Linked DNA regions of Homo sapiens. The protein of the gene in region 2 purifies or fractionates together with the protein of the main gene of each other region. This does not show direct contact. Each region holds a gene or a part of one and is shown on either strand. Other genes may lie near its edges.

The links.
Region 1: the proteins of RTBDN (region 2) and DDX19B purify together in Homo sapiens (affinity purification with mass spectrometry; 2 studies listed by BioGRID and IntAct, with this or other methods). This does not show direct contact.
Region 3: the proteins of RTBDN (region 2) and COL6A1 purify together in Homo sapiens (affinity purification with mass spectrometry; 3 studies listed by BioGRID and IntAct, with this or other methods). This does not show direct contact.
Region 4: the proteins of RTBDN (region 2) and TSEN2 purify together in Homo sapiens (affinity purification with mass spectrometry; 3 studies listed by BioGRID and IntAct, with this or other methods). This does not show direct contact.

Annotation. Positions count from the first base shown.
Region 1 is NC_000016.10:70,309,186-70,316,211, forward strand, and holds part of DDX19B (ATP-dependent RNA helicase DDX19B), read left to right. Parts: intron 1-3,423; coding exon 3,424-3,472; intron 3,473-5,716; coding exon 5,717-5,770; intron 5,771-6,454; exon of another isoform or gene 6,455-6,783; coding exon 6,784-6,919; exon of another isoform or gene 6,920-6,957; intron 6,958-7,026. UniProt on the Homo sapiens protein: ATP-dependent RNA helicase involved in mRNA export from the nucleus.
Region 2 is NC_000019.10:12,824,965-12,831,588, forward strand, and holds the end of RTBDN (retbindin isoform 1 precursor), read right to left. Parts: intron 5,716-6,624; exon of another isoform or gene 5,648-5,715; intron 5,465-5,647; exon of another isoform or gene 5,318-5,464; intron 5,034-5,317; coding exon of another isoform or gene 5,016-5,033; coding exon 4,847-5,015; intron 3,990-4,846; coding exon 3,905-3,989; intron 3,804-3,904; coding exon 3,693-3,803; intron 1,929-3,692; exon of another isoform or gene 1,908-1,928; coding exon 1,811-1,907; intron 1,703-1,810; coding exon of another isoform or gene 1,643-1,702; exon of another isoform or gene 970-1,642; coding exon 742-969; 3' UTR 518-741; downstream 1-517.
Region 3 is NC_000021.9:45,991,744-45,998,769, reverse strand, and holds part of COL6A1 (collagen alpha-1(VI) chain precursor), read right to left. Parts: intron 6,761-7,026; coding exon 6,698-6,760; intron 6,607-6,697; coding exon 6,553-6,606; intron 6,408-6,552; coding exon 6,372-6,407; intron 6,023-6,371; coding exon 5,960-6,022; intron 4,604-5,959; coding exon 4,541-4,603; intron 1,350-4,540; coding exon 1,287-1,349; intron 1,071-1,286; coding exon 1,008-1,070; intron 650-1,007; coding exon 599-649; intron 373-598; coding exon 337-372; intron 1-336. UniProt on the Homo sapiens protein: Collagen VI acts as a cell-binding protein.
Region 4 is NC_000003.12:12,480,502-12,487,492, reverse strand, and holds the start of TSEN2 (tRNA-splicing endonuclease subunit Sen2), read right to left. Parts: upstream 3,014-6,991; 5' UTR 2,613-3,013; exon of another isoform or gene 2,302-2,612; intron 1-2,301.

The DNA.
Region 1 (7,026 bases), on a different chromosome or scaffold from region 2:
TTGTCCATTTCCATGAATAGAAATGGGAGGCTGGGCGCGGTGGCTTATGCCTGTAATCCCAGCACTTCGGGAGGCCGAGGCGGGCAGATCACGAGGTCAGGAGATCGAGACCATCCTGGCTAACACGGTGAAACCCCGTCTCTACTAAAAATATAAAAAGTTAGTCGGGCATGGTGGCAGGCGCCTGTAGTCCCAGCTACTCCGGAGGCTGAGGCAGGAGAATGGCGTGAACCTGGGAGGCAGAGCTTGCAGTGAGCCAAGATCACGCCACTGCACTTCAGCCTGGGCGACAGAGCGAGACTCCATCTCAAAAAACAAAACAAACAAACAAACAAAAAGAAATGGGGCTCCTGGCTGGGTGCAGTGGCTTACGCCTGTAATCCCAGCACTTTGGGAGGCCGAGGCGGGTGGATCACGAGGTCGAGAGTTCGAGACCAGCCTGACCAACATAGTGAAACCCCGTCTCTACTAAAAATTCAAAAATTAGCTGTGCGTAGTTGCACACGCCTGTAATCCCAGCTACTTGGGAGGCTGGGGTAGGAGAATTGCTTGAACCCAGGAGGCGGAGGTTGCAGTGAGCCAAGATCGTACCACTGCATTCTAGCCTGGGCGACAGGGCAAGACTCCGTCTCAAAAAAAAAAAAAAAAAAAAAGAGAAATAGAAATGGGGCTCCTCCATTCTCAACAAACCACCAATTAAAACATTTTTTTGTTCTCTCCTCTCTACCCTCCTTCCCCTTTCGCCTGTTCTTGGACTTAGAGGGACAACAGAAATGCGGCCTAATGCGTAGTTCACACTTATAATTCTAGCACTTTGGGAGGCTGAGGCAGGAGGATCGCTTGAGCCCAGGAGCTCAAGACCAGCCTGAGCAACACAGTAAGATCCCAACTCTACAATAAAAGATTAGCTGGGCAGGCTGGGCGCAGTGGCTCATGCCTGTAATCCCAGCACTTTAGGAGGCCAAGGTGGGCGGATCATGAGGTCAAGAGATTGAGACCATCCTGGCCAATGTGGTGAAACCCTGTCTCTATTAAAAATACAAAAATTAGCTGGGCATGGTGGTGCATGCCTGTAGTCTCAGCTACTTGGGAGGCTGAAGCAGGAGAATCGTTTGAACCCAGGAGGCGGAGGTTGCAGTGATCTGAGATAACACCACTGCACTCCATCCTGGCAACAGAGCAAGACTCCGCCTCAAAAAAAAAAAATTAGCTGGACATGGTGGTGAGTGCCTGTAGTCTCAGCTACTTGGGAGGCTAAGGCAGGAGGATTGCCTGAGCCTTAGGAGGTTGAGGCTTCAATGAGCCATGATCATGCCACTGCACCACTCCAGCCTGGCCAACAGAGTGAGACCTCGTCTGCAGAAAAAAAAGAAAGAACCATTAGGTTGTGATTTTCATTTTCTTTTTACTAGATGATGTCTTAGGCCCTGCTTGATATTTTATGATTAGGGTTGGCTTTAGCTTGAAAGGTTACTTACTCACGCCAGACTTTCCATCTATCTAATCCCTGTGCTGGGGTCCAAGACTTACAGATGCTTTCTGACCTTTAAAAAAGTCTTTTTTGGCCAGGTGCGGTGGCTCATGCCTGTAATCCCAGCACTTTGGGAGGCCGAGGCAGGGAGATCACGAGGTCAGGAGATTGAGAACATCCTGGCTAACATGATGAAACCCTGCCTCTACTAAAAATACAAAAAAATTAGCTGGGGGTGGTAGCGGACGCCTGTAGTCCCAGCTACTCCGGAGGCTGAGGCAGGAGAATGGCATGAACCCGGGAGGCGGAGCTTACAGTGAGCTGAGATCAGGCCACTGCACTCCAGCCTGGGCAACAGAGCGAGACTCTGTCTCAAAAAAAAAAAAAAGGCTTTTTTGTTTTGTTTTGTTTTTAATAAAAATGTACGACTAGAAAGGCCGGGCGTGGCAGCTCATATCTGTAATCCCAGCACTTTGGGAGGCTGAGGCAGGCGGATCACGAGGTCAGGAGATCAAGACCATCCTGGCTAACACCGTGAAACCCCATCTCTTAAAAAAAAAGAAAATACAAAAAATTAGCCGGGCGTGGTGGCGGGCGCCTGTAGTCTCAGCTGCTCGGGAGGCTGAGGCAGTAGAATGGCGTGAACCCGGAAGGCAGAGCTTGCAGTGAGCTGAGATCGCGCCCCTACACTCCAGTCCAGGTGACAGAGCAAGACTCTGTCTCAAAAAACAAACAAACAAAAAATTTACGACTAGAGCACTTACTTTGCTCTGTACTACATCCAAAGGCCAAAAATAGAAATATGCTACTCTGGGCACATTTCCTGTGGGGTAGCCCTGCTCCTCAAGGAGCAGTAGAAAACGAAATAGGCCCTGTCAGGAAGGTATTTGCATTCTAATAGAGGAGATAAGACCTGCTAGGATATCCCTAATATACAGTATTTGATCAAAGTCTTAGTAATTATTCTTTGAAATGTCTCTTTCCTTTCTATTTCCACTTCAGCCCAGTGGGTATTTTAATTACACAGTGTGCCACAATGCTTCAGGCTGTTCCCAACTACAGTATCAGACACCAGCAAAAGGTGACTTGAATGTGAGGCTGCACATCAGCATACTGTGGTCTTACGGCTCTAACGTATCCTGCAGTATGACTGATTCCTACCCACAGATGCTTTTCTTTTCTTTTCTTTTCTTTTTTTTTTTGTGAGACGGAGTTTCACTCTGTTGCCAGGCTGGGGTGTAGTGGCGTGATCTTGGCTCACTGCAACCTCCGCCTCCTGGGTTCAAGCGATTCTCCTGCCTCAGCCTCCCAAGTAGCTGGCACTACAGGCATGCACCGCCACGCCCAGCTAATTTTTGTATTTTTGGTAGAGACGGGGTTTCACCATGTTGGCCAGGATGGTCTCGATCTCTTGACCTCGTGATCTGCCTGCCTGAGCCTCCCAAAGTGTTGGGATTACAGGCGCGAGCCACCGCACCTGGCTTTACAGATGCTTTTCATCACAGTCCTCCCTTCCCAGTGTTCTCCAAAGTATGACTGCATTTTTCAAAATCTCTTTAAATTTCCTCTTGTTTGAAATATGATTTGGAATGCAGCGATTCCCCCCCACACACAAAAGAAATATGAGAGAATGACAACTCTAATGATATTCTACAAAGAGAGAAAGTTTATAATCAGGGCATTAAGCAAACTCACAAATTACAATTCTCTCACAGAATTTTAAGTAGAAGGTACAGATTTGGAGCATTTTTTTCCACCGATGTATTTACGGGAAATTTTGTTTATTCTCATCAGACATTTAGTAAACGGAACAACCCAATGAATTGGTCCTAATGAATATACCTTGAGAATGGCTATTTTATCCCCAGCTTCATTAGGGAGGCTCTGTTGATTCCAAATCTTTTTAAGTGCTTTTCCTGACACTTTCCCCCTCCCCCATATTCTCCATTTAGTTGAGCAACTTGCATCTTAAGGAAGAGAAAATCAAACCAGATACCAATGGTAAGTAACTAATAGCTAGTTTGAAAACAAATGTGATTTCCTTCAGTATTTTTGTTTTGGCATAACAACTGTCTGGAAAAAAATTTGTATTTGTACCAGGCAGGGCATTGGCAGATACTGGTACCATTTGATTTGTAAATCAACAAACTGGATTGTATGACCAAAGTGTTTTTATTTATTTTTTTGTTTCTGTTTACTTTTTAAGAGACAGGGTCTTGCTCTGTTGCCCAGGCTGGAGTGCAGTGGTTCAATCATGGTTCACTGGAGCCTCAACCTCCCAGACTCAAGTGATCCTCCACCTCAGCCTCCTGAGTAGCTGGGACTACAGGCACAACCCACTACGCCCAACTAATTTTTATTTTTTATTTTTTATTTTTTTGAGACAGAGTCTCGCTCTGTTGCCCAGGCTGGAGTGCAGTGGCTCGATCTCGGCTCACTGTAAGCTCCACCTCCCGGCTTCACACCATTCTCCTGCCTCAGCCTCCCGGGTAGCTGGGACTACAGGCACCTGCCACCACGCCTGGCTAATGTTTTGTATTTTTAGTAGAGATGGGGTTTCACTGTGTTAGCCAGGATGGTCTCAATCTCCTGACCTCATGATCCACCGGCCTTGGCCTCCCAAAGTGCTGGGATTATAGGTGTGAGCCACTGTGCCCAGGTATTTTTGTTTTTTTATAGAGATGAGGACTCCCTGTGTTGCCCAGGTTGGTTTCTAACTCCTAGGCTCAAGCAGTCCTCCCGCCTCAGCCTCCCAAAGTGCTGGGATTACAGGAGTGAGATATTACACCTGGTTTCAAAGTGTTTTTAATACAAGAATGAGGATTGCACACTGATAGCAAGGGTGTGGGGGGAACAAAGAATGAGGCTACTTAAGTGGGACTAATTACTAACCATCGGACTACATTGACAAAGACTAATTTTTTTCTTAATGTTCTCAATTTGGGATGAGATAGACAAAGTATGAGCAATCTGACAGTTTACCTATCCTAATTATTCTGAAATCATATTTATCCAAAGTTAAGATTTCCATTAAATTATTGTTGATGTACTTAATATTACAGGAAGGAAATGTAACATTTGCCTTTCTCAAAATTCACTTAAATCTTTTTTGTATGATTTTATATAACCACAGTATCATTCGACTATAAATTTATATTAATCAATTTATAGGCCGGGTGTGGTGGCTCACACCTGTAATCCCAGCACTTTGGGAAGCCAAGGCTGGCGGATAACCTGAGGTCAGGAGTTTGAAACCAGCCTGACTAACATGGTGAAACCCCATCTCTACTAAAAATACAAACATTTGCCAGGTGTGGTGGTGCACCCCTGTAATCCCAGCTACTCAGGATACTGAAACAGTGGAATCTCTTGAACCTGGGAGGCAGAGGTTGCAGTGAGCTGAGATCGCACCACTGCACTCCAGGCTGGGTAAGAGTGAGACTGCATCTCAAAAAAAGAAAAAAAAAATTTATATGCATGAATTTTTTTTGTTGGTCTTACTGCTCATTTGTTATATACATGAATTTTAATGGCATTATTGTGTTCACCTATTGATAAAATACGATTTGCATAGATATTCCTCTGTTGAGCATCAAGGTGGTTTCTGATCACTAATTGCTCTAATCTTTCTATAATATTTAAGAAGTATTGATTCAATGAGGGAAATAACAGGTTTTGAGGTACGGAGAGGAGACCTAGAATAGGAAAGAATATGAGCAACAGAGGCCGGGCGCGGTAGCTCACGCCTGTAATCCCAGCACTTTGGGAGGCCAAGGCAGGCGGATCACGAGGTCAAGAGATCAAGACCAGCCTGGCTAACATGGTGAAACCCTGTCTCTACTAAAAATACAAAAAAAATTAGCTGGGCGTGGTGGCGGGTGCCTGTAATCCCAGCTACTCGGGAGGCTGAGGCAAGAGAATGGCGTGAACCTGGGAGGCAGAGCTTGTAGTGAGTTGAGATCGCACCACTGCACTCCAGCCTGGGCGACAGAGCGAGACTCCATCTCAAAAATAAATAAATAATAAAATAAATATCTATCTATATATATATATATGTGAGCAACAGTGTTTTACACCTTTGTTTATTTAGGGACAATAAAATGTTTTTATCAGCGGCTCGGTTTCCTCATTTATTTTTTGCTCCCCAGGCCTTTACAAAAACTTCTAGTGTCATAGAATTTGAATTGTCTCAACTGTTGGGTATGGGATGCGATTTTGAATGATGGCCACTTTGTGTCTATAAAGGTGCTGTTGTCAAGACCAATGCCAATGCAGAGAAGACAGATGAAGAAGAGAAAGGTAACACAGCCGTGGAGCTTTATATAATAACAAGCTTCTACATTCTAAGAAAGTGGATTGTTATGAGGCTTCATTTTTATACCCAGTTTGGCTTGACTTTAATAGGCGATACAGTGCTAGCATAAAGGTTCAATATAGGGGCCGGGCACGGTGGCTTACACCTGTAATCCCAGCACTTTGGGAGGCCGAGGTGGGCAGATCACGAGGTCAGGAGATCGAGACCATCCTGGCTAACACGGTGAAAACCCGTCTCCACTAAAAATACAAAAAAAAAAAAAAAAATTAGCCGGGCATGGTGGCAGACGCCTGTAGTCCCAGCTACTTGGGATGCTGAGGCAGAAGAATGGCATGAACCCGGGAAGCAGAGCTTGCCATGAGCCGAGATCGAGCCACTGCACTCTAGCCTGGGCGAAAGAGCGAGACTCTGTCTCAAAAAAAAAAAAAAAAAAAAGTTCAATATAAATAGTCAGTAGGTGAAGGAGTTCTAATGGTTTACGTTTAGAGAAATTTTACATTTAACAACTGAACAGTTGAATAGGGCATTATAAAAAATTTTCAGTTGCATCTCTATTGTCCAGTAAAATTAAGCTTAATGTTATTTTGACACATTTGACATGGATGACGAGACCAACTTGTCCAATATTAAGGTACAGACTTTGTTAATTCCTGTTTTTTTTTTTATTGTTGTGATTGCTACATTAATTACTTTAGGTTTATATATAGTACAAATTGGGGAGTAAATATGTGGGTCTGGATAGGAGGAATAGATAACTGCAGGAAAAGAGGGCTGTTAGAATAGAGTCTGGAAAAGAATATGAGGCCTAAATGGGTGATGTATCATAACTTTTTTCTTTAATAAAACTATTTTAATTTATAAGTCAAAACTATGACGTACCTTGAATTTGAATGTTCAGTACATTATTATTTAAAATACAAATGGCAGTTGAATTAGAGTAAACGCCTGGTAGGTTTCAAGGACTTTTTAAAATTCTTTGCTTTCTTTTTCCTGACAGAGGACAGAGCTGCCCAGTCCTTACTCAACAAGCTGATCAGAAGCAACCTTGTTGATAACACAAACCAAGTGGAAGTCCTGCAGCGGGATCCAAACTCCCCTCTGTACTCGGTGAAGTCTTTTGAAGAGCTTCGGCTGTGAGTATTTATTCACCTTCTGACTCTTCCCCTTTGCACTGAAATAGAGATCCTAGGTCTGTTATAGATATCTTTTGACCACAACAGAGCAGTTTTAGCTAACCAAG
Region 2 (6,624 bases):
GCAGGTAGGAATACAGGCACGGGTCACTACACTGGGCCAATTAAAAATATTCTTTTTCTTTTTCTTTTTTCTTCCTTTCTCTCTCTCTCTTTTTTTTTTTGTGGAGACAGGTTCTCACCGTATTGCGAAGCCTGGTCTTGAACTCCTGGGCTCAAGCAATCCAACCACCTCAGCCTCTCAAATTGCTGGGATTACAGGCATGAGCCTCTGCACCTGGCCTTGAAGTGTGTCTTGAGGCCTATACAAGTTAGGCAGCTTCTTGGCAGCCCTGGTGGCACACAGTGGGAAGGAACCCCTCCTGCCCTTGTCAGCCCCTGTTCTGACCCCCTCTCCATTTCCAACAACTGGGTATTCCCAGTTATGTTGACTGCTCTAGGGCACAGGCTATCTATCATTTACACTCTAGTATGAGTCAGTCACTACTTCTAGGGTCTGAGGATTAGACGTGAGACATCCGTTACTTTCTGGCAATTCTCCTTCCGACTTATTTCCCCAAGAAGCAGCCACACTCGTCACGTGCTCTAGCTGGCGACTTTATTCAAAGGGGAGAGGGAAAAGTGAGAGAGTTGGGTCATTTCTGGGATAACCTGGAGAGGGGTGGGTCTCTGGAGCTCCAGGGAGGAGGGACAGACATCTCAAAACTATTACAGAAGGCCGAGAGGACGAGGGGTGGGGTTCTGGGTGTCCTGAGGGGCGGGGCTGGGGGAAGGGTCGCTCCCCCAACTCAGGGCCACGCGTCCGCTAGGGGCCGCTGCCGCTTCCACTGCCACTCCCGCTGCCCGCAGCGTCCAGGATGGAGGTGCGAGGGCTGCGGGAACGCCGGGAGGGAGCTTCCCGGCCCCGTCGTCCTGGTCTGGGACGAGGTACCGCGGAGATGGAGATGTTGAAGCAGTGACGGGCTCCAGGAGCAGCCACCGGTAGGGCGTGGCCCAGAGCCGAGCGACAAAGGTCCGTCCCGTCTGCGAAGGTCTAGGAAAAAGTGGAGTTAAGGCCCTAGTGGGCGGAGTCCAGAGACGTGGGGGGCGTGGCCTCGGGAAGGGAAAAATGTGTAAATTCCTTAGGGATTGGGGTCAGAGCCGGAGCGTGCGGCCTGGGAGTCTATGTGCGGAACGTGAGTGGGGGCAGGTCCTTGGGGAGGGTGAATGTTCTTACTGGGCCCTAGCGGGATGAATCAGGGTTGGGGCAGTTGGGGGGCGCGCAGAGAGGTCTGTATCAAGGCTGGGGTTTTGTAGAGAGTGACTGGGCTTCTGGGTCCTCCAGGGTAAAATGTGGATGGACCCAGAGCAGGAATGGTTTCTTGGGAAGGGCAAATCTGGACTTCGAGAGCTTTTGGGGTCAAAGGGCACAACCCAGTAGGAGGTTGGGCTAGGGAAGGGTGGGAGCAGGGACCTGGGGAGTACCAATCCGGTCTCTGGGGTCTAGACACGGTAAGAAAGAACTTGGTGGGGGCCGGGGGCGGTGGCTCACACCTGTAATCCCAACACTTTGGGAGGCCGAGGTGGGCGGATCACCTGAGGTCAGGAGTTCGAAACCAGCCTGGCCAACATGGTGAAACGCTGACTCTACTAAAAATACAAAAATTAGCTGGGCATGGTGGCATGCGCCTGAAATCCCAGCTATTCGGGAGGTTGCGGCAGGAGAATCACTTGAACCCCGGAGGCGGAGGTTGCATCGAGCTGAGATCGCGCCACTGCACTCCAGCCTGGGTGACAAGAATGAAACTCCGTCTCAGAAATAAATAAATAAATAAATAAATAACTTGGTGGGGAGGATCTCAGTCTCTTCCCTTCACCTTCTGCCCCACGCTCACCTGTCCATAGGTAAGGCAGCTGGGCTCACAGCCCCTTTTTTCTGAGAGTGGGAGCCAAGTCGGGCCGCAGGTGATATCATCTTCGCAGTTGGCGAACCTGGAGATGGCGAGTGGAGAGGTGGGTAAAGCCTTTGTAGTTACATTCCAGCGCGATTCTGGCTCTTCTAGACTGTGTTCACTATATGCCCCCACCTCGGATCCAGGCCCCGCCTTTTAGAACCACTCCCCTGCTAACTAACCCCATCTCTCCAGATTTCACCCTGCCCCATATTCTATCAGATCTTTCCATACTCTGGGCCACGTCACAACTGGCCTTGTCCCTACAGACCTCAGACCATTAGTTACAGGCCAGTCCCTCATATTTTCCCACTCTTTCGTTTTCCTTTTATTTATTTTTGAGTCAGGGTCTTGCTCTGTGACTCAAGCTGGAGTGCAGTGGCGTAAGCATGGCTTATGGCAGCTTTGACCTCCCAAGCTGGAGCAATCCTTCCACCTCAGTGTCTCAAGTACCTGGGACTATAGGTGCGCACCATCATGTCCGATTAATTTTTTTTTTTTTTTTTTTTGAGATGGAGTCCTGCTCTGTTACCCAGGCTGGAGTGCAGTGGCCCAATCTCTGCTTCCTGCAACCTCTGCCTCCCAGGTTCAAACAATTCTCCTGCCTCAGCCTCCCGAGTAGCTGGGATTACAGGCGCCCACCACCACGCCTGGCTCATTTTTGTGTTTTTAGTAGAGACGGTGTTTCACCACGTTGGCCAAGCTTGTCTCAAACTCCTGACCTCAGGGGATCTGCCCACCTTGGCCTCCCAAAGTGCTGGGATTACAAGCATGAGCCACTACGTCCGGCCCATGTCTAATTAATTTTTAAATTTTTTGTTGAGACTGGGTCTTGCCATGTTCCCCAGGCTGATCTTGAACTCCTGGCCTCAACCAATCCTCCTGCCTTGACCTCTCAAACGACTGAGATTACAGGCACCCACCCTTTTACCTTATCTTTTCAATCAAGAGGACTCACTCCTTAAGAAATCTCAGGGCCTGGCTGGGCATGGTGGCTCACCCCTGTAATCCCAGCACTTCGAGAGGCCAAGGCAGGCGGACCACCTAGGTCAGGAGTTTGAGACCAGCTTGGCCAACACGGTGAAACACCGTCTCTACTAAAAATACAAAATTTAGCCGGGCGTGGTGGCGGAAGCATGTAATCTCAGCTACTAGGGATGCTGAGGCGGGAGAATCACTTGAACCCAGGAGGCTGAGGTTGCAGTGAGCTGAGATCGTGTCACTGCACTCCAGCCTGGGCGACAAGAGCAAAACTCCATCTCAAAAAAAAAAAAAAGAAAAAAAGGCCGGGCACGGTGGCTCACGCCTGTAATCCCAGCACTTTGGGAGGCCGAGGCGGGCGGATCACGAGGTCAGGAGTCTGAGACCAGCCTGACCAACATAGTGAAACCTCGTCTCTACTAAAAATACAAAAATTAGCCGGGCATGGTGGTGTGCGCCTGTAACCACAGCTACTCAGGAGGGTGAGGCAGGAGAATCGCTTGAACCCGGGAAGTGGAGGTTGCAGTGAGCCGAGATTGCACCACTGCACTCCAGCCTAGGTGACACAGTGAGACTCCATCTCAAAAAAAAAAAGAAAGAAAGAAAAGAAAAGAAATCGCAGGGCTATGAAAAGCCACATTGCCATATGGCAGGTATCTTAAAAGCTGGGGGCTTCTCATGCCTCGCCCCTATCTACCTGGGCTCTAAACATTAAGCTGCATCTCTTAAACCTTGGCCCTGTTGGAGGCCACTCCCCTTTACACAGAAGGCCAAGCAAACTGCAGGCTCCGCCCTCTTCCCCGCCCAAGTCACAACCCACGCCCCTTGCCCCCGCGTCTCCTACCAGGCCTGGCAGAGCTCCTCGCAGAGCGGCTGTGCCTGGCGTACCCCCAATAGCCGCAGGCGGAAGCGACTGCGAAGGGCACGTTGGAGGTGTTCCAGGAAGGATTCGCATCTGGACGTTGGGAGAGATAGGGTCGGATGGGTCAGGACCCGAGGGAGTTCCTGGGCAATGGGCAAAGTACGCGAGAAAACGGTGGAGGGTGCTGTACTCACTCAGGGCTCGGCACTCCACAGCGTTCTGGATGGTTTCCAGGGCCCGATGTCTCTGTTGTGTCCATCTCTGAGGGACAACAAGGTCCTGGCAAAGGGGAACCCTGTGAGCTAGGGTCTTGGATATTCAGGTAAGGTTTGGGAACTGAGGCCTGGGGATCCCCTGGACAGGGGAGACAACAATTACATCAATCCTCACAAACCCATAACTTAAGACCCTTCCTTTGGAATGCAAATGCAGCTTCAAGTAGTAATAATCATTTCTTGTTTATAATAATCAACTTACTTGTCATGTGCCTGGTAGTGACACATATACTTAATCCTTTTCCTTTTTTTTTTTTCTTTTTTTCTTTTGAGACAGGGCCTCACTCTGTCACCCAGGCTGGAGTGCAGTGGCGTGATCTTGGCTCACTGCAACCTCCACCTCCCAGGTTCAAACAATTCTCGTGCCTAAGCCTCCCAAGTAGCTGGGATTTCAGGCGCATGCCACCTCGTCCAGCTAATTTTTGTATTATTAGTAGAGACAGGGGTTTCACCATGCTGGCCAGGCTGGTCTCAAACTCCTGACCTCAAATGATCTGCCCACTGCAGCCTCCCAAAGTGCTGGGATTATAGGCGTGAGCCACCGAGCCCTGCTCATATGCTTATATGCTTAATCTTAACAACAGCTCTGCGAGGTATATTTGTTATTTCTCTCTTTTTGGGGGTCCATGTGAGACCCAGAGAGGTTAAATGACTTCCTCAGGATCACACAGCTACAAAGTGGCAGAGTTGGGATTTGAACCCAGGCAGTCTAATTCTTATCCACCATTCTTCAGCACTATCCGTGCCTCCCACCTTGGTGGCCATGCTAGGCCCCTCTCATAAGGAAATTCTAACATTGTCATGGCAGGGTAGGTGTGGGTTTCTGGGTGTTGGTGGTGAGGCAGGGTCTGGGGTGCTCACCTGCCAGGTGCAGCTTGCCTTTGCCCAGATCAGCTGCCAGCCCATGGTGTTGCTGGGACCTGGCTTGGAGTGGGCGGCTCCCTCCACAGGCTTCTAGCAGGATCCATGCCAAGGTCAGTTGCAGCACCCACGTCAGGCCGATGGGTCGCATGTGGACCCTGCAGTCCATGTCCACCTGAGATAAGAGCTGGCAGGCATAGGGTGGGGTTCAGCCATCCCTTTCTGTGAGCTTAGGGTGGCACCCACCCAGTGCATACCCAAGAAGCAGTGCCAGGCAGAGTAGGGAAAGTGCAGCTGAGGAGGAGGCTGGGGCAGTGGCCAAGGACGTTCAAATCCCAGGAGACCATCAGGGCCTGCCTCCAACCTAGGAGCCCCCCTCCCATCAGAACCATGTCCTCTATGTCCCTTCAGTGCCACCCCAACCAAGCTTAGACCACAGTGGCCCTCCTCCCATCCAGCAGGATCTCCCACCTTTTTAGTCTTCAAGAGACCCCTTCTTTTCTCAGAATGAAGGGGACCTCCCTAGGTCTTCCAATCCCCCTCTCCTGTTCAGTAATTCCTCCCTCTCTTCTATGCGGCCTCCCTCCTCCCTCTCTCGCTCCCTGCCGGCCCTTCTCTGGGTCACCTTCTCTCGGCCCACAATCGGCTTAGGGGCCACCCAGAGCTGGACCTTTGGGACCAAGGCTGGTGTGGCAGGGCTCAGGTTCTGTCACTGGGGCCCAAAGCCCCGAGGCAGGGACAGCTAGCGGTCTGTGGAGACAAGACTGTCCCCTTCCCGCCTCCCCGCATTCAGCCCCTCACCTGTTGGCTGGATTGGGGTCTAGAGGCCGCTAAGACACCTCAGGATCCAGTCCAGGAAACTGGCTGCTGAAAGGGGCGTGGCTTAATGCAGGGGCGGGACCTCCCACCGTCCTGCCCACACTCCAGCTGACCAAAGGCTGGCCGACTTGGGGCTGGTGTGTATATATCCTTGTGTTTGTTTTTATGTTCAGCTTGTGGCTTAAGCTCTGTATCTATATATGTGGGGAGTGTGTGTGTGTGTGTGTGTGTGTATGTGTGTGAGGAAGGTGTGTTTGTGTGGCCTATAGCCTGTGTGTGTTCCCAGGCACCTGTGTCTTTTGTTTGTGTGGCTGTGTGTGTGTTGAGCATGTATGTGTGTTTTTGTTGTATGAGGTTATGTTTATGTGTGTTTCTTGGTGGAGTGGTTGTGTGTGTGTGTGTGTGTGTGTGTGTGTGTGTGTGTGTGTATACGTTCAGAATCTGGGGGAGGATTGTGTGTCCCAAGCAATGTGTTTGCAGTTGAATAAAACAGGATCTTAATAAATGTGAGAAGGGGAAATGTAGCATTGGGTTAGTGTCCCTGCAAAAATGTTGGAAGTCAGTGGATAAAGGTTTTTGACCATGAAGGTTGACCATGAATGAACAAAGAAATGTCATGTGCTGAGCAGGATGTGTTTGTGTGCACACATTATGTGTCCTTCTGAAGTTTCTGTGAATGTGTGTTGCTTGTGAACACTCCTTTAACTCATCCATTCATTCAACAAACATTTATTGAGCACCTACTGTGTGCTAGATTCTGGGGATGCAGTAGTGAACAAGACATGAAAATTTCAGCCAGGCATGGTGGTTCACACCTGTAATCCCAGCACATTGGGAAGCTGAAGTAGAAGGATCGTTTGAGCCCAGGAGTTTGAAACCAGGCTGGCCAACGTGGTGAAACCCCATCTCTACTAAAAATAATCAAAAATAGCTGGGCATGGTGGCACATGCTTGTAATC
Region 3 (7,026 bases), on a different chromosome or scaffold from region 2:
TCCTGGGCTGGAGAAACTGGGTCCCGGAGTGGCCTAGAGAGCCGTGGGGCGGCCTCTGGGGCTGGGCCTGCCCTGCGCACCGAGGGGAGATCGGTCACCGGGCAGTCAGGGCCGTGAGGAGACCCACAGGCCACACCACAGTGGGAGCCTCGCAGGGCCTGCAGGAGCCGATGCCAACTGGGGCTGTGGCCACAGACAGTGGGGCAGCCGTGGGTGCCTGTGTACCCCGTGTGTTTGCTCGGGAGCCTGTGTGCACATGTGTGTTCACACGTGCGTGTCCCTGTGACTGTGAATGTTTGTGTGCCCACAGCCAGATGGAGGAGGGGGCGTACTCACGTTTATCCCGGGAGCGCCCCTGTTGCCCGGATACCCCTGTCATGGAAAAGCAGGGCAGTGATACCGGGTTCTGATTTGAGAGGGGAGGCTGTGAGGGGCGCACAGCGGAAGGGCCTGAGCTGACAGAATCCCGGCCATGGAATTCCTGGGCCAGCCGGCGGTCCTGGGGCCAGCCCGCCCACCCAAGAGTGCCCAGTCCACTAAAGAGGGCGCCGCAGGCAGCTTGGGCATGTTCCTGTGGGCTCAGCCTCCGGACACTTACGGGGAAGCCGGGGAAGCCCTCGGTGCCATTTCCAGCGGGGCCGTCTTCTCCCTGGGGGAGCAGAGTAGCCGTCACCGTGCGAATCGGCCTGGCCTGGGATACCCACTGGCTGGCACAGGCCCGGGAGCACCTCACCCGCAGGGCCCCTCCGTCAGCCCAGAAGCCGGCTCCCTCCCCTGGGGCCACCCTGCTGGTCCCCGTGGACCCTGGGACCCGGATCTCGGGGCAGGAGGGGCCCTGCCGAGGCGGCCTCTGGCTCAGGTGCCGACTGTGGCCAGGAGCCAGTGATGCTGCGGGCACTCCCGGCCCGGTCAGGGACCCCAGGCAGCTCCACAGTGCGGGGCTGGGGCTTCCCAGGGCCTCTGGCGGCCAGGCCTCCGCCCTAGGGCCCGAGCTGTTGGACACTCACCCTTTCACCCATCAGCCCCGGGTCTCCAGGGGGTCCGGCAGGTCCTGGGGCTCCTCTGGCACCCTGAGGAGGAAGAGGAGGCGTGAGGGGAGCAGGCTTAGCATGGTGACCTTGGAGGGAAGCAGGGCCCTCCTGGGGCCGGGAGAGGTCCCATCGGGAGCCAGGACACCCAGGGCCATAGAGTCCTCAGAGGGCACGGGGCCAGCACTGGGCAGACAGTGGGTTCTGGATCCTCAGGCCCCCCTGGGTGGGCGGGTGTGGGTGGGGAGTGGGACTCACCTCGGACCCTGGGGGACCCTCATCGCCTCGGTAGCCTTTAGGTCCGATAGGGCCAGCCTCGCCCTGTAGAGAGATGGATATGGCACGTTGGACCACAGGCCTCACCCAGCCTGAGCCCTCCCTGACCCTAAGCTGAGGGTCTCAGACCAAGAGGCATCAGGGCCCCCAGGCTCTGGCCCCAGTCCCATCAGTGCAGGGGGAGAGCCAGGCCCACTCTTGGGTCTGACGAAGGGCCTGCACGAAGGGCCTGGGCACAAGTGTTGAAGCCCTTCGGTGGGCGCCCAGCTGGTGCCTCAGGCCCCCACGGAGGGGTGAAGCCTCTCCCAGATGACTTTGGTGGGCGCCCGGCTGGTGCCTCAGGCCCCCACGGAAGGGTGAAGCCTGTCCCAGATGACTTCGGTGAGTGCCCGGCTGGTGCCTCAGGTCCCCACGGAGGGGTGAGGCTACAGGTCCCCAGGCCGCAGACCACCTGCCCCTTCTCCTATCAGAGTGGCCCCAGACTGCCCTCCCTCATGGTCCCCTTTGGGCCTGGCCTGGTCCCCTTAGCCCACCCCCAACCGCAGGACCCTCTGTGGGCTGAGCCTGGACACCACCCTGCCCCCACCTGCACCTGAGGCTGCCTGCTGGACTTCCTTGGGTCCCCCACATCTCATGAGGACCCTGTGGGGGTCTATTTCCAGAGCTGGCCCCAGCTCCCACCTTTGAGGGCCTGCTCCGTGGACAACTCCAGCGGCGAGTCCCTGCCCTTCGGAGTCTAGCCCAGGCACCCCAAGCACTTCCCAGCGCGCCCAGCTGAGCCAAGAAGGGAGCCGTGTACACATCGCCCGGCCCACCTGGCCCACCTGGCCCACCTGGCCCCAGCCATGAGCCTGGTCGGACGCCTGTCCCTGGCCTGTGCCTGCTCAGACGCCTGTCCCTGGCCTGTGGTTAGGCTGATGCTTCCCGATGAGGCCTGTCCGGTGGTTCAAATGTTTACAACTTCCCCACTACCAGACTTGGCCCATTCACCATCCTGACCCCGTGGCCTCCACCAGGCAGACAGGAGGCATCTAGTGTATTGCTCTCTCTACCCCGACTGTGCAAGCACCCAGGCCTGGCTGTGAAGCTCCTGCACCCTTCGTGGTCAACGCCCCAGCAGTCAGGACTGCACACTTGACTGGGGACTTTGCACACGGGCCTCAAGGAGGTCCAGAAGCTCACCAAACTTGGGGTTCAACAGGGGTTAGTCTGGTACCCTGAGATCCTGCCTTGGGAACACGAAAAGGGGGCCAGGAGGAAGGATGGAAAGGAGGTCTCTGTGCCCTGGGCCAGGTAAGTGGGAGGCAGAAGGCCTGGACCTCACCACACACAGTCAGACTGTGCCACAGACAGCAGGAGGCCAGACTGGGCAGTTTCTGCAGAGCACCTCACTGGGGGCACCTCCTGGGACCAGCCCTGAGGGCCCAACTGCTTCTGGCATCCACACAGGGAGAGCCCCATGCTGGGCAGGGTGGAGGGGAGGGGTAAGGCTGGCAAGGGCTGAGCAGGGAGGTTCTGGGAGCAGGGAAAGCCCGGAAGGCCAGCTGGGAGCCCAACGTCCCGATGGACAAATGTGGCTCCAAAGCCACCTATCCACACCCCCGGGCCCCGAAAGGCCCCAGGGAGGCTCCAGGTGAACAAGTGCCTGCCTCAGCCAGGCAACTGTGAGTCATGGGTCACATGGTGCCCTGGTCTCAGGCGTTGGGGGAAACCTCCTCCAGGACAGCAGCCTAGAGACTATTCCCAGACCCCCAGGCATGGGACCCACCAGCCCCTGTGCAGCCTGCCCCACAGCCCTGGAGGCCCTGCAGCCGGCCTGCTCACAGGACTGCCTCTTACCACAACCCTTTGAAAGTGGCTTTGTTTTTTTCTTATAGTGGCTATTGATTACTTTGAAAACTGAACATATAAAACAGGCAGGGTGTGGTTAGAATTCTCCGAGCAAGTCCTGGCCTCTGAACGCTCATTCCCACTGAGACTTTCAGCTACCAAGGTCTGGAGCAGCCTCCCAAGCCTGGAACGTGGCCCTGGGCCGTCCCCTCCCCACAATCTGCCACTGGCTGCATGGCCTCTTCCACGCACTGTGCCCTGCACCTGGCCCTGTCCTGGGTGACCACATGGGAGGTCAGATCATCCTCAGGGCTGGAGCCCCGGGAGCTCAAAGAGCAAAGAGGATCAGAGACTGAGGCCGTGCACTTCCCCAGGAAGGTGTCGGGAGCCCTTTCTGCCCCTGCCGTGAGCGGCACGCAGGACCAGGTGGACGAACGGCCCAGACCCCGCCTGCCAAGCCCTGCCCTGGTCCTCATCTATGACACAGGTATTTTTAACAGCTGTGTAACACCCGTTGGCACCACAAAAGCACGATTTCACCTCGTGCACAGAAATACAAATGTGACTTGCACTGGGACGGCCTCTCCCATCTCCCTGGGTCTGAGGCCCCATCTTGCTGGACGTCTGAGACAGCTGCCGTGCCCAGGGTCTGGCCTTGTGCTCGGTGTGTGGGCAGCTGCGCACATGGAGCCGTAAGGTCGATTTGTCCACAGAAGCAGACAAGCTCGGGAGCACAGACTTGCTGTCTCCGGGCGTGACCGTGTGGAGGCCTTCCTGTCCCCGTGGGGCAGGTGAGCTCCGGGAGGATGCAACGGCCCAGCCCAGCCTGCGGGCAACACCACACTGGAGCCACCATCATGGCAGTCATCAGAATGGGGGAAGAGACAGAAAGCCGTGCGGCGTGCACAGCGATTCCAGAGGCTCGGAGAAGGGAATTTAGAATGAGATGAAAGTGCATTTTCATCCTGACACCCTGGGATTCTGGAAACCTCCATAGCCTCACACTCCCCAGTTGACCTCCAGCCACAGTCATGCCTGGCTCCTGACCCAGAAAAACAGATGCTGACCAAGCTCCCAGTGTCTCCCAGGGGCTCCAACACCTCTTCCTCACTGTGAGGCACCCTTGCCCCGGATGGGCCCCCAGACAGCGCTTCTCCACCTGGGCTGAGCGTCTCAGCGTCAGGCCCCCGGGCGCTGGGCCTGCTCTCAACAATCCACACCAGCCCGGCCCAGGCCGCGCCTCACCCCCTGCAGCCGGCTCCCACGCAGGGACACCCCCGAGATCTACGGAAACACAGAGGCCCTCAAACGGAAATGAACAGACCCCCAGTGCGTGAGCTGCTGGAGCACTTCTACCCCCAAAACCCAAATTGGCCAACGCCCCCCAACCCCACAGCGCTTCCTACCGGGTCTCCAGGGACACCAACGGGGCCTTCTCTTCCCTGATCACCCTGCGGGCCAGCTTCACCCTGAAGAGAAACGAGCCGTGAGTGTGGAGCTGGGCCATCCTTGGGGAGGATGGCTGCCCGGGCACGCTGGGAGCCACAGCATGCTGTCCAGGTGGTCACTGGGCTGTTCCGGCCTTCCCTCCCCGCACAGCCCCTTCCTGGCCTCGCCAAGCGTTTCCTCGGCCCACGTGCGTGGCCATCGGCGTGGCTGGCTATGGCTATCTTCATTCAGGAGGCCGGCAGCTCCTCCTGGGGCCCCAGAGGCGTCCCTGCGTGCATCCCTGCTTCTCCAGCAAGCTCCGTGGACCCGGCAAGTGTTTGTAGCCATGGACTTGTGGCCCGCCGGGAAGCTGGAGCTGCGTGGCTGGCCCTTCCTCTGGGCTCTGCCTGGCTGTCAGTCTCATATCCTGATCTCAGAGGAGTGGGCCTAGAAGGCAGTCTGAGTCACTAAGTCACACGATCCCTGCTTTGACGTCCCCCCGACCCCTCCACGGGGGCTGTGCGCTTCTGGGGAGCTCCCAGGGAGGAGGTCAGAAATCCCCCACCCCCCACTGGGGAGCCAAATCCCTCGGTGGCGGCGACTCTGGCCCCGGCTCAGCTCTCTGGCCCTGCTGGAGCCCCGCCTGTCTGTCACAGCACACGACAGTCGCATGTCTTGATTCTCGGACAAGGGGGCACCCGGGGGCGCTGCCTCTGAGGCCTGGCAGCTCGGCTGGGCACACTAGGGCATTCTCTCCCCTTCACTCTGCCCGCCAGGCCCTGGCTCTCCCTGAGCCGGATGGGACTGAGACGCCCGGAGTCTGCCAGCTGCCCCGCCCCACATCCAGCACAGATTTCCCAGCAAGTCACAGGGACAGAGAAGGGCCCTGTGCTTCTGCACCCTGAGGCTGGGCTGTGGGGTGGCCTAGCGAGGCCCACGGTCCACGGAGCTGAAGGTGGGGGGTGGCCTCTGAGGCCGCCGGCATCTCGGCTCTGGGGTGAGTTTTCCATGTCAAGCCTTCCCAGGCAGGCGCCCTGCAGGCCTAGCTTCCCGTCTGGGGTACTGACCCAACTTCCTCACGCTGGGAATTTTAACTAAGGAAAATTATTCCAAAGAAGAACCCAAGCTCGGATGCAGAAACGTGGAAGCCGCCTGGTGGGAAAGTGGGCACCGGGTCCACGGGCAACGCCTTCACATGAAACAGGTCCCAGCATCAGGCACATGGCTGGGCGCCGGCTTCAGGGGCTGCCCTCCCTGACGGCGTGGGGATGGGCTGGCCACGTTGAGGGGCCACAGGGGCTTCATGATGTGTCCTGTGGCTCTGGAGGCCTGACCCAGCCCCAGCCTCCGCCTGCCCCTTCCTGGGGTGGTTCCCAGCTCCAGGAACTGTGACTCACAGGGTCTCCTCTTGGTCCCCGCGTGCCTGGGGTCCCCCGTGGTCCTCTCTCTCCAGGGCCACCCTGAGTGGAGAGACATGGAGGGGAGAAGCCTCAGCTGCTGGAACTCACACCCAGCTGGGGTGGGGCTTGAGGCCTGGCCTGGACTGACTCCCCCAGCAGGACCCCTGGGAGGGGCCACCCCTCCACCGCATGCCCCACGGTTGCAGAGGCCGGAATCTCCTGGTTCCCCAGGTCCCACCCGCTCTGAGACTGTGGGAAGAGGCATCCTGGACGTGTGGGTGAAGAAACCCATTTGTCTTGGGCAGGAGGCCATGGCTCTCAGTGCTGGGAGGGCCAGACTGGGCCGCAGAGGCCACGTCCACAGCTACATGGTGAGGCCAACAGCGCAGGCTGCCCCTGCCCCACTCACCCGCTCCCCGGGGGCACCGTCAGGTCCTGGGTTCCCCTGGGATGAAGAGAAACAGACGCCGGCGTTAGTCTGGTGGACACACTGCATTTGGTCTCAGGGACGTGGAGTAGACCCCGAGCAAAGAGGATCAGAAGCTGAGGCCATGCACTTCCCCAGGAAGGTGTCAGGAGCCCTCACTCACCTCGTCGCCCGCCTCTCCTTTCTCTCCGGGGGGCCCAGGCTCTCCCGGCTGGCCCTGTGGGGAACAAGGGTTGAATGGTCGCTCCATCTCCTTGACCCTCCCTGGGCCCATACCTGGCATGTGTGGGGGCTGTGAAGCTCCTCACCTCGTCTCCAGATGGTCCCGAGCTCCCTGGTCTCCCCGCCTCCCCGTCAGCTCCAGGCTCGCCCTGGGGAAGACCGGGGGAGTCACACACGCTGGCAGGGGTGTGCACCAGGGGTGCAGCCATCAGAGGCCACATCCAGGGCCTCTCACCCATACTTCAGGCCACTCCCTCTGACCAACACTGTCTGAGCCCAGACCCCCCAGCACCCTCAGCCATCCACAACCCTGCACAAAGACCTCCTGGAATGCTCCAACCTTGTTCCCTGTGAGGCCCAGCCAAGGGCCATCTTGTCTAAGGGGCAGGATTTGGTTCCCATTAGAGAAGGCACA
Region 4 (6,991 bases), on a different chromosome or scaffold from region 2:
TTTAATGGCCACCTTCAAGAAGTTCTAATAAATTCTCTCAACAAATAAGAGTTGTATTTTAGTCTGCCTCATTTGTTCAGCGTTTTTCCCTCTCAGACTGCTGTCACATCTAAAAAAGGCAAGATTTAGCTGTGACACTTGATCGAAAGAACTCTGTACTCCAACCCAGGTGTGTGGGATGGAAGGGTCCCTGCGACAAAACACCCCTCATAATCCAAGTTCTTGTGTTACTCTTGCTCATGTGGCTGCACACCCCTCAGGAATTTGGCTCGCAGTAGGCCTTCCAGACATGCAAAGCCGCCATTATTATTGTGTGACCTTGCACAACCCACTTTCTCTAAGCCCAGTTTCATCTTCAAATCGAACAGGACTGGAGGAGTCTGGCAGTTCCTCAAAATGTCAAACACATAGTTACGACATGATCCAGCAACTCCACCCCTAGGTATAGACCTAAGAGAAATGAAAACATATGTTCATGGAAAAATTTGTATGTGAATGTTCACAACAGTATTATTCATAATAGCATCAAAGTGGAAGCCATCCAAATGTCCATCAATAGTTGACCAGATCAACAAAATGTGGTCTATCCATATAATCAAATACTTAGCCATAGAAAAGGAATGAAGTTCGGATACATTCTTCAACACCTGAAAGCATTATGCTAAAAGAAGTCAGACACAAAAGACCACGAGACAATTAAGATAAAGTTTCCGGAATAGACAAATCCATAGAGACAGATTACCAGTTGCCAGAGACAGGGAAAAGTGGGAAATGGGGGGGCGACTGCTAATAAGACAGGAGGTTTATTTTGGAGGGTGACGAAAATGTTTTAAAATTAGATTGTAGTGATGGTAATGGTTACATAACTCCGCGAATACGAAGACCACTGACTCGTACATTTCAGAAGGGTGACTTTTACAGAATTATATGGTATCTCAATAAAGCTATTTTAAAAAATTCAGAAGTAAAGACATTCCCCAGGCCATGTCCTGCAAGAATGACTTCACAGATACCAGCGTGAAGCTTCTAGAAAAGATAGAAAGAAACCCTCAGGGAAGGTAGAGCTCACTTCCCCAGGGGGAAAAATTCAAGAGGACAAATCAGATGATCTCTAGTTTCATGGAAGAGTCCTCCTGTGCTGAACTCGAAAGGCAAAGCAGAGGAGAAAAGACTGCATTTACCATTCCCCATATCTGCAATGGATATTCAAGAAGGTTCTTTAGTGTCGCGGCAGAACAGCATGCTGTAAGAGGTGGGATGTGAGTAAAATAAGAAGAGGAAACTGTCATAGGTAGGTACCAGATGCCAGAGGCACTCACTGCATGTGCTGCACATGTGGGTACTATAGTCATCCCTTGGTATCCACAGAAGGACTGGTTCCAGGACTCACCCCCTACCAAAATCCGCAGCTCAAGTCCCTTAAATAAAATGTAGTATTTGCATGTAACTTATGCCCATCCTCCCATCTACTTTAAGTCTTCTCTAGATTACTTAGAATACCTAATACAATGTAAATACTAAATAATTGTTATATATATATATTTTTAAATTTCTTTTTCCAAATATTTTTGATGCAACATTGGTTGAATCCACAGATTCGGAACCTGATAGCGAGAGCTGACTGTACTATCCTCATTCCACAGATATGAAAGAAGAGCGGTGCCTGAGGTGCACAAAAACATATAGGAAAGACTGGGTCAGTTGTCAAGAGGTTTGGGATGCAAAGGTTGGTTTGGAATTGGAGTCACTGCAGGTTATTTAGAATGATGATTGAAAAATGCAGATTAAGAAAATTAAACCTGGGAGTGGTACATCACACAGTGGCCCTCAAGCTTACCTACCCTTAACTCCTCATGCCCAGGCCTCACCTGCAATCAATTACATCAGAATTTCCTGGGTGGACCCAGCTGATTTTAACATATAGCTAACCACTGGTAACAGCAAGGTCTATTCAAATTCACTTAATCCCAGTAGCCCCCGGAGGTAAAGACTATTTTTATTTCCATTGTACAGATGTGGAAAGTGACTCGGAGGGGCCGGGCGCACCCCTGAGAAATCTTTACTTCTTATTTCCCCAACCTGCGCAACCTGACTCCAGAGCTGCATATTCTTACTTTCTATTAAAAGCAGAGTCTGTTTCTTATTCTTCCCTCGAGCACACAGGCTAACACCTCTTAGGTGATGGTAAATGTCTATTAGAAAAACAAAAAAGGGAGAGGTGGCTCCATTTAATTTTCCAACCTTCCTGGACTAGGTGCCAAACAAACCTGGTTAAAAAACCTCCTACCCAGCAAATCTCACCTTCTCCCAACCAAAACACGCTTCAAGCTCCATCTGCGCACCTCCTGGGCTTAGGGAGGCAAGGATGAAAGGCACAAGGTAAACAATCCTGCCTCTGGGGAGCTTTCAAGTTAGAACCTGAGAATAAGCCATATAAACAGATGACCAGCCTTTGAAAGTTGTTGTCAGGATTAAATGCATAATTTTGCAGAAGGCGTTTCGTTCGGGGCCTACCACGTGGAAAGCGCTCACCAGACGACAGCTGCAAATAAAATAAACTGCGCACCCCAACAGCGTTAGGGGCCCCGCCAATTCCTAACTCCCTGTCTTACCCCTTTGCTTCTTTCCTTGACTACCCCCACACCCGACCGAACTCCACCAGAGGCTGCGGCTCCTCTCGGGCATTGTCAGCTGCACCTTGCGCCCCAGCCCCACCAGCCCTGAACAAGGCGCCGGCGTTTCCAAGAACCAAGGGCTGCAGGCGCACGAGGAAAGCGCGGAGGAGTCAGTGACCGGGCGCACTCGGAAGCCTGGCTCCCCGTCCCGGCACTGTCTCGGCCGGCTGTGCGACCCCAGCACAGTACCTAGGCCCTTTCCTCTCTCGCCCTGGAGGACTTTCGGAAGAGCGAGATTTCCTTTCGCTGCAAAACACCAAACTCGGAAAGGGCCGCGCTTTCCTCGCCCAGGGCCCTTACCTTTCTTGGCCCCACGCGCTCGCCGTTACCCCGGCAACGCCGGCCGTGGGGCGGACACCGCTGCCGTCAAGCAGTGCGGCCGCAAAGCCAGCCGAGTGCGCAGCCGCAGAGCTCCCGTCGGGACTTGGCGGAGTGCGCCTGCGCACGGCCGGCTGGCGGGTGTTCTGTGCGCCAGCTCTGCCACTGCGGAGTATGAGGCGGAGGCTGCGTGCGCGCTTTGCTGCTCTCTGCAGGATTGTACGGAAGCCAGAACGATCCTGCAAGACGCATTTTACAGATGAGATGCAGTTACCCGTCAAATGTCACATAGTCACGTGGGAGGTGGGAGAGACCTAGAATCTTCGGCCCTCGGTGGATGGGATGTTTGAGGCGACCGACAGGACTTTATTAAATGGCCCTGAGGAAACTGATCTCATCTTTCTCAATGTAGAAAGAGGATCACAGCAGCGCACCTGTGTACGCTGCAGCATGCGGGGAACTTGCAAGGACGTTTTCTCTGGCAGACACCTGGCCAGAAGCCTCTGTGTGCCCAGACTGCCTGTGCAGTTAAGGGACAATAGGCGGCAGGTCCACCTGCTCTGCATCCCCATTTTCCCCCCTCACTGGCTGCGTGAGCTTGAATGACTGACAACCTTTCTGAGCTTGAGTTTACTGAAAAATGGGCCATCAGAATTACGGGAGATGAGCAAAACTGGAGTGCAATAGGAAGTGTAAGTTTCTCCTGACCTGGTTATTTTAAAGGAGCCCTGTGGGGAGTCCAATATATACTTTCCCAAATATGAATCACAGGAGTTCCACCACACAGACTAAGCAGGAGGCAAAGGAGGATGGCAAGGAAGTGTGGCAAATACTGCTGGAGAGATTCATGGTGCTAGATGTGATGATGGATGTTGAATTTTGGACTTCTGCCAATGTTCTTGCCTCCATTCCTTCACGCATGCTGTTGCCTCTATGTTCCCTCCCCTCTGTTAGCTGCAGTAATTCCTGGTCAGCCTTTAGGTCTCAGCTCAAATATCACCTCTTCCAGGAGACTTCTTGCCTTCCCAGACCTGCTTGGGTGACTTGCCTCTGTGCTCTGCAGTAGTCTGGCATGGCATGTGTTGTCCCTGTTTTTCTGGCCCTTTTTATTTTTTGAGACGGAGCCTGGCTCTGTCGCCCAGGCTGGAATGCAGTGGCACCATCTCAGCTCACTTACCTCACTGCAATCTCTGCCTCCCAGGTTCAGGTGATTCTCCTGCCTCAGCCTCCCGAGTAGCTCGGATTACAGGCGCCTGCCACCACGCCCGGCTGATTGTTATATTTTTAGTAGAAACGGGGTTTCACCACGTTGGCCAGGCTGGTCTCAAACTCCTGACCTCAAGCGATCCTCCCGCCTCGGCCTCCCAAAGTGCTGGGATTACAGGCTTGAGCCACTGCATCCTGCCTGGCCCTTTTTGAACTGCACTGTGGGCTTGCTCTTGGTAGAGTGAGATCATGTCGCAGCATTCAGTGGGTCCTCTGCTGCAAGGACCTTCACTGCTAGGCTAGGGAGTTCAGGTTTTAGATAAACCAAAATCAAAGAGCTTTGTGGTAAGAATGTTGCAAAAGAAAGGGAGAAAATTGGCAAGAGTCACAGGATATGGTAACAGGATGGATTGGGCAGGGGAGAGACAGCTGAAGAGAGGCTGTAATATCCGACCAGAACATGCCAATTTAAGAAATACTGGTTTTAGAATTAGAGGGCTTTAACAATGAAAGGGATTCAGAGGTTGTCCAGTTAAACTTCCTTATTTAACTGATAAGAAAACAGTTCCAGTGGCACTGTGAGTTGTCAGAGATAACCGAGCAGGTCTGAGGTGGGGCTGAGACTAGAGCCAGGTCTCTTAAATCCCATCCCAGCTCGTGGAAGGATTTGGGGTTTGCTGATAATGGGATCTCAAATTCCCCTCCCAAAAACATAAAAAAAGAAATTAAAAAAAGAAAAAAAATCTGTAAATTTTAAAAAAGAAAGAAATTTTCCCCAAGACTTTCTCAAGTGCATTTTAAACCCTTTGATATGGTTATTTTCAAACATACAACACAAAAGTAGAGAAAACAGTCCAATAAATCATCACTTCTGGCCGGGCACGGTGGCTCATGCCTGTAATCCCAGCACTTTGGGAGGCTGAGGCGGGTGGATCACCTGAGGTTGGGAGTTCGAGACCAGCCTGACCAACATGGAGAAACCCCATCTCTACTAAAAATACAAAATTAGCTGGACATGGTGGTGCATGCCTATAATCCCAGCTACCCTGGAGGCTGAGGCAAGAGAATTGCTTGAACCGGGGAGGTGGAGGTTGTGGTGAGTCGGGATTGCACCATTGCCCTCCAGCCTAGGCAACAAGAGTAAAAACTCTGTCTCAAAAATAAAAAATCGCTTCTACAACCTTCAACCTTTGGTATCTCATTTCTTTTGCATTCTCGATATACACACTTTTATCTCCTTGCTGGAGTATTTTAAAACAATCCCAGACATGATATAACTTCATCCATGATATTTCAGTAGGTATCTCTAATAGATAAGGACTTAATTTTATTACAATACATCTGCATCTACATATATATATATATATATACGCAGACACACACACACACACACACATATATCAACTGTGTAGTTCATTCTCATTATTTGAGGTAATTCTGTTCTATAAAGTTGCCACAAACACTGAATTAGTAAATACTGAACCATGTTTCCAGGAGAAATACAAGATACAAGGTTAGGTGTCTGTGAGTCTCTGGTCACAGCATTTTCATCAACTGGTCAATATATAACCTCACTTCATGTGTTTCTGTTTAAAGACACCTTACATATGTTGATTCATCAACACTGAACTCGCAGCCAACAGCACTATAACTCCTGCCTAAAGGAGGCTTATCTAACACACCTATTCTCTCCAATAAGGCACATTTCTTGGGTGGGGAACACCAGACAGCACTTCAGCACTCCACTTGGGGCCATTTTAAACAGTTAAATCACCAACAAAAAGCACAAAAATGTGAAAAACATGGCACAAACTAGAGCTCAAAAAAGCATACTTATTTATGGTATGAGAGCTGAAACAAGAAGGCAGAGTCTCCTTGTTCACCTGCAGCTGGGAATGTGCACACTGTGTGACTCAAATTTTTTGGTATTCTGTGCATGCACACATCTGCAGATGACTGTGACAGTGAAGTATTGATTGTGATGTTACCAATAAGTTTTAGCAACTAGGTGAGTTTGTAAATACAGAATCCAAGAGTAGGGAGGATGGACTATATCAACATATCCCCAGTATCACTAGCACATCTAACACAATGAACAGTTATCGGTGAAATGTGCCCAGAACCTCCAAGTAATATTTGGGATATACTTAAGAAAAAAGTTTATCTGAAATTCAAGTTAATCTGGGTGCCTCACATTTTATCTGGCCACCCTAGTGACAATTTATTGGGCACTTACTATGTGCCAGCCACTTTTGCATCCATGATCTTATTTAATTCTCATAACAGGGCTGTGAGATTGGTGTTCTTACCTCTCTTCTGCAGCCAAGGTTACCGCACATGCCCATGGTGTCATTGCTAGGAAGTAGTGAAGGCCAGATGAGGATACGGATCTACGGGGCTTATGCTCTTTTAATCTGTCATGCTGGATACAGGAGGGCAATGCATTAACAAAACATGACAGGCCGGGCGCGGTGACTTATGCCTGTAATCCCAGAACTCTGGGAGGCCGAGGTGGGTTGATCACCTGAGGGTGGGAGTTCAAGACCAGCCTGGCCAACATGGCAAAACCCCGTCTCTACTAAAAAAAATATATAAAAATTAGCTGGGCATGGTGATGCGCCTGTAATCCCAGCTATTCGGGAAGCTGAGACAGGAGAATCACTCGAACCCAGGAGGCAGAGGTTACAGTGAGCGGAGATTGCGCCACTACACTCCAGCCTGGGCGACAGAGTGATACTGTCTCAAAAAAAAAAAAAAAAAAAAAACAAAGAAACAAAACAAACAAAAACCAC